2 separate regions of the Homo sapiens genome follow, and region 2 is linked to region 1. Evidence: fine-mapped expression QTL. A gene starts in region 1. The other region holds a variant in brackets. All regions are shown on one strand. Distances are from middle to middle. Region 1 holds the start of RPUSD1 (RNA pseudouridine synthase domain containing 1). Region 2 has its middle 48 kb from the start of GNG13.

What was found.
Region 2: its variant is fine-mapped to the expression of RPUSD1 in whole blood (INTERVAL, PIP above 0.99).

What each region holds. Positions count from the first base shown.
Region 1 is chr16:786,835-789,709 of GRCh38, reverse strand. It overlaps RPUSD1 (RNA pseudouridine synthase domain containing 1), which reads left to right and starts at 1,329. Exons shown (of 6, transcript NM_058192.3): 1 at 1,329-1,454; 2 at 1,966-2,154; 3 at 2,233-2,356; 4 at 2,531-2,633; 5 at 2,782-2,875. The coding sequence starts at 1,973. It overlaps CHTF18 (chromosome transmission fidelity factor 18), which reads right to left and starts at 1,090. Exons shown (of 22, transcript NM_022092.3): 1 at 935-1,090; 2 at 585-779; 3 at 350-500; 4 at 1-163. The coding sequence starts at 1,025. RefSeq lists silencers at 797-856, 1,037-1,496, 1,517-1,606 and an enhancer at 2,056-2,863.
Region 2 is chr16:847,179-850,072 of GRCh38, reverse strand. No RefSeq gene overlaps it. Among named protein-coding and RNA genes, the nearest start is that of GNG13, 48 kb to the right of the region's middle. The variant C/T (reference allele first, on the strand shown) is at 1,674.

The sequences.
Region 1 (2,875 bases):
CCCCGGGGCCATGGGGTCAGCACGCAGCACCAGATAAGCCCGGACGCCCTCCGTGGATGTCACGTGGACGTAGTCCTCCAAGATGGGGGGCCGCCTCAGGACGGGATTGCGGGCAGCTGGTGAGGCCCGTGTGAGACCCACGTCGGCAGCAGCTTCTGAGACTCTGGAGAGAGACCGGGGCTCAGTGGCAGAAACTCAAGCGTGGGGTCACCCTTGGATATGGGTGTCCGAGACTGCTCTCAGCCATGGAACCCTCCCCACCCCCCAGGCCTCATCCAGGGCACGGGATGGGCTCCATCTGAGTCCCACTGGACAGATGGGATGGGACGCCCATGTCCAAGCCACACACCCGTGGCCCCAAAGCTCTGCGAGGTCCTCAGGGCTCGGCGGCGGGGTGATGTCCGTCGGCGAGGAGTCGGGAGGGGGCGGCTCCTCCATCTCCTCCGATCTGAAGTTCAGCCTCTTGACCACCTGCAGCCTAGGCCGTTTGATCCTGGGGGCTGGGGGAGACACATGCAGGGAACCAGAGGCCTCCTCAGCCTCGCGCCCACTCCGGAGGCCCTGGGGCAATGCCGCCAACCTACCGTGGGGCAGGGACCCGGCCGGCTGCAGGTCGGCGTCCACCTGCCTCTTCCTGGCGCCGCCCTGGCTGCTGCCCACAGATGCGGCTGGGGCGGGACTGGAGGCCGCGTCCCCTCTGGCAAGGGCCTCCTCGAACGTCCGCGGGGGTCGGCCCGCGGTGAACAGGGGGACCCCGGAGGGCGACGGAGTCGACGCCCCTGCTGGGAGAGGAGATTGTCAGCGGCCGCCCCGAGACAGCAGATCCCGCCAGCGGCGACGTGGAGGCCCCTTCGGCCCCCGGCACGCCCTCCCCGAGGTCGCCACTGTCCCGGCTTTCGCAGCTCCTCCCCAACGGCCGGGGGCCGCGCCCCACCTTCCAGCTCTGCCAGCACCTCCAGCTCGGCCGCGAACTGGTTGTGGAAATCATCCTCGACGCCGCACAGCTCCTGCTCGTAGTCCTCCATACCGTCCGCGAGCCCGAGCTCCCGCTCCGAACCTCCCGCGCCGCCGCCGCCGTCGCGCACTGCCCGCCCCGAGCGTGCCGGGCGCCGCCAATCAGCAGCCGGCGTGCCCGGCGGCGCGCGCCATTGGTTGGCGTGGCGGAGGCGGGGCTGCGCGAGGGGTGGGCGGGGCGAGTTCCTGCTCCGCAGCCCCCGCGTCCTGTCCTGGGGAGCTCGCCATTGGCCGCCGCAGCCGCCCTTCCGCGGCGGGGGCGGGCCGGGGGCGGGCCGGGGGGGGGGGCGGGGCTGCGCGCGCAGCGGTGCAGGGCGGAAGCGCTGCCAGGCGTCCGGAGCGGAGCTTCCAGGGTCTCTGGGTCGCCAGCGCGCGGGCGCGCGGCTGGAGCCGGCGCCGGGCACGGCATCGGGGGCCTGGACTGCACGGCCCGGCAGCAGGTTGGTCTTGGCGTGGGCGTGGGCGCGGGAGGGGCTCGGAGCCAGGGTCGGCCTGCCCACCGGGCCTGTGCGGGGCGCGGGTCTGCGCGGACTGCGGGGAGCGAGGAGGCCCCAGCCCTAACCCGCGCTGCGGGCAGACCTGGCTGCCGGGCCTGGTAGTGCTGCAGCCCCTCCCCGCCCCCACCGTCGGGCAGAGGCATTCACGTGCATCCCCTGGAGGGGAGGGTCTGTGGGGAGGATCTGTGGGGCAGGTTTGGAACGGGCTCTTTCTCCAGGCTTAGGTCAGGCAGGGCCCTTCAGGTCAGCCCGGAGCAGGCTGACTCCTTGACTCCCCAGCTGACGCCCTGGGGACTGATCTCGGGGACTGAGGATGCAGGTGCACAGTAGGGCTGCGGACCCGGCTCGGTGGCTTCGCACCGGAGCCCGGGTGGGGCGGTGCGGGTACCTCTGTATGCTGGGCTGGGGGCGCACCACGTGCTCACAGCACACGCACCCACGCGTGGCTCGGCAGGCCGGCCATGGAGCCAGGCAGCGTGGAGAACCTGTCCATCGTGTACCGGAGCCGCGACTTCCTGGTGGTCAACAAGCACTGGGACGTTCGCATTGACAGCAAGGCGTGGCGGGAGACTCTGACCCTGCAGAAGCAGCTGCGGTACCGCTTTCCCGAGCTGGCCGACCCTGACACCTGCTACGGGTTCAGGTAGGGGGGGCGGCCGGAGCCCCACGGTGGCGTCTGTGGAGGAAAGTGGCTCAGACTCTGGACTCTGTCCCACTCCAGGTTCTGCCACCAGCTGGATTTCTCCACCAGCGGGGCGCTGTGCGTGGCCCTAAACAAGGCAGCCGCCGGCAGCGCGTACAGGTGCTTCAAGGAGCGGCGCGTGACCAAGGCTTACCTGGCATTGGTAAGACCTGGTCAGTCCTGGGGTGGGGCGTGGGGACTCAGGATTCCCACCCCACTTGGGCAGCCCTGGCTCAGAGCCTCCCACCACGCTCTACGTGGTTGCTTGGTGTTAGGTGGGCTCCCCGGCAGCACTGGGCTGCCCCGTGAACTGCGTGCGATTCTCCCTCTCCTGCAGCTGCGGGGGCACATCCAGGAGAGCCGGGTAACCATCAGCCATGCCATTGGCAGGAACAGCACGGAGGGCCGGGCCCACACCATGTGCATCGAGGGCTCGCAGGGTGTGGCAGGCAGGGACCCACCGGGCGGGCATCGTGGGTTGGGGTGGGCCTGGGCAGGCAGGGACCCACCGGGCGGGCATCGTGCGTTGGGGTGGGCCTGGGCCCCGGGTCAGTCCCACTAACCTCACACCTGCCTTCTGCGCCCCAGGTTGTGAGAACCCAAAGCCAAGCCTCACAGATCTCGTGGTTCTGGAACACGGGCTGTACGCAGGCGATCCTGTCTCCAAAGTGCTGCTGAAGCC
Region 2 (2,894 bases), 60 kb before region 1:
AATGGGAAGAGGACAGCCTTTTCAGCAAATGGTACTGGGAAAGCTTTATCTCCACATGCAAAATAATGAATGAAGCTGGCCCCTTACCTAACAGCATACACAAAAATTAACCCAAAAAACATAGGATGAAACACCTAAATGTAAGAGCTAAAACTGTAAGACTCAGAATAAAACCTGGGAAAATCTTAAGGACATTGGATTTGGCAGTGTTTTCTTGGATATGACAACAACAGCACCGGCAACAACACAGAAAATAAATTGGACTTCATCAAAATTTGACATTTCTGGCCGGGTACAGTGGCTCACACCTGTAATCCCAGCACTTTGGGAGGCCAAGGCAGGCGGATCACCTGAAGTCAGGAGTTTGAGACCAGCCTGGCCAACATAGTGAAACCCCGTCTGTGCCAAAAATACAAAAATTAGCCTGGCGTGGCAGGCACCTGTAGTCCCAGCTACTCGGGAGGCTGAGGCAGAAGAATCGCTTGAACCCGGGAGGCAGATGTTGCAGTGAGCTGAGACCGTACCACTGCACTCCAGCCTGGGCAATAGAGTAATATTCTGTCTTTAAAAAAAAAAACTGTGGCTATAAGTGAGACTGCAGAGCTGCCCCGGGCTGCTGTCTGTGGAAGCCCTGCCCTGCGGGAGCAGCCACAGCTGTAACCCCACCTCTGAAGTAAAGCTGTTTCCTTCCACCTCTGGCTCGACCTTGAATTCTTTCCTGGGCAAAGCCAAGAACCCTCTGGGACTAAGCTCCTCTTTCGGGCTCGTCTGCCATGCATCAGAATGATGTGGCCACGTGGAGACTGTCTGGGGGTTCCTCGAAATGTTCAGTGTAGACGGATGACCACATGACCCCGCAACTCCACGTCTGCACGTAGACCCGGGAGAGCTAGAAACGGCGACCACGTGACCCCGCAACTCCACGTCTGCACGGAGACCCGGGAGAGCTAGAAACGGGGACCACGTGACCCCGCAACTCCACGTCTGCACGTAGACCTGGGAGAGCTAGAAACGGGAACCACGTGACCCCGCAACTCCACATCTGCATGTAGACCCGGGAGAGCGGGAAACGGGGACCTGGGTGTGCTTGCACCGGAACGTTTGCAGCAGCCCAGAGGTGGGGACAGCCCAGATGAACAGACCAGGTGTGCTCACCCATGAGCATTACGCAGCCGCAAAGAGGAGCGAGGCCCCGACGCTCAGATGAGCCTTGAGAACCTGATGCCCAGTGAACCCGCCAGACACAGAGGGCACCGGTCCTGCGATGCCGTCTCTGGAATGTCCAGAACAGGGAAACCCACAGAGACGCTGGGCAGGGAGAAGGTGGACGGCTCTCGGGGCTGCTGGCAGGAACAGGGAGAGCGGGCATGACGGCTCACAGGTCCAGAAGGTTCTCTGGCGGGTGATGAAAATATCTGGAATTAGGCAGAGATGCTGGTTGTGCGTGTGGCCAATGTGTTACGTGCACCACACTGCTGACCTTTAAGTGGTTAATTTTATGTAAATGTCAACTTCACCTCAATGTTTTGAAATACAGCAAAGCAAAGCAGAGTGTCTTAAGCGTCCTGAGACCCTGGGCCTCCCTGCCTCAGGGCCCAGACCCTCACCCTGCCAGAAGGTCCAGTGGGGCTCAGGATGCCGGGCAGGGAACGCGCTTCACTCCTTCTCTGTGG[C/T]GTGCATGGGGCTGGAGCCGCTTAAGACCAAGGCTCAGTGCACCTGGATGCTGGTTAACCCGAAAGTGCCGTACGGAGCCACCAGTGGTCCCACAAGCTCTGATGATGGCCGCAGTCACGGACATGCAAACTTTGATTCACTGAGGACCACGCGAGCAAATGACAGGTGATGCCGGCAATTCTCAGCCCACTGCTGCCTGGATAGCTTGCCCCTTACGCCGCGAGCCAGGCTGCCCACCCAGCCCACACCCGGGCCCACCTGGCGCTTAGCAAATGGCCTTCCCACATCACGCTGGTGGCTTTCCGCACCACCCAGTGTTCACCTGGGCTCCCACACACCAGCAGGAGGCAGCAAGCAGGCACCTCCCTCCCATCTTGCTCCAAGCGCTGTGTGCGGGAGGGATGGAAACCTCCAGGCGCTGGGAAGAAGCACCCCAGGCACTAGGCAGGGGAAGGCTGGGGGGCCTCCGTGCCCACCCCCAGGTCTGAGCGCATTGGGGAACCCGGGGCACCGGGAGGGTTTGCGGACAGTGCCACCCTCCCTGCAGGGCTGCGGCCACCTTACTTTGCCTGGGCCGCCTGGCCAGGGGCCGCAGCTGACCCGCTGAGTCTGGGTTGGTGGCTCACCGTTCTAGGGTTTACACCTGACCCAGTGTGATCTATACCTGCCCAGGTCATACCACACTGTCCAAACTGTTACAGCTTTCAAACCAGCCCTGGACTGGCCGTCATAGCCGCCTTGATTGTCGTTGGCCCATTGCTGGAAGCAAGTTGGCGAAAGCTTCCGTCAGCTCTGACGGTTGGTGTGCAGACAGATGGCGGGCCGCAACATCCTTTCCTCCCCTCCCTGAGCCTCTTTTTCTCTTGGGTGGCAGGTGGGGCCATCTCCTCTGCCTCATCTTTTTCCTAACCTGGAAGTTGTTCCTTAAACACCTGCCCACGGTGGGCTACTGTGAAGCCCTTCACCCGCAGCCATGTGGACATGCTGGAGGAACATCAACAGACTCTCATCTGAACAACAAAAAAGAGGAAAGAACACTCAGCAAAGGAAAGAAGAGGCACTGAGCCAGGTCAGCACCCCGGGCCGCTGGGAGAAGGTACCTAGTCCAGATGATATGGGACACACAGGGGTTTACAGGAAACCGCGACACATTACAGACACGGGACACACACGGGTTTACAGGAAACCGGGACACATTACAGACACGGGACACACACAGC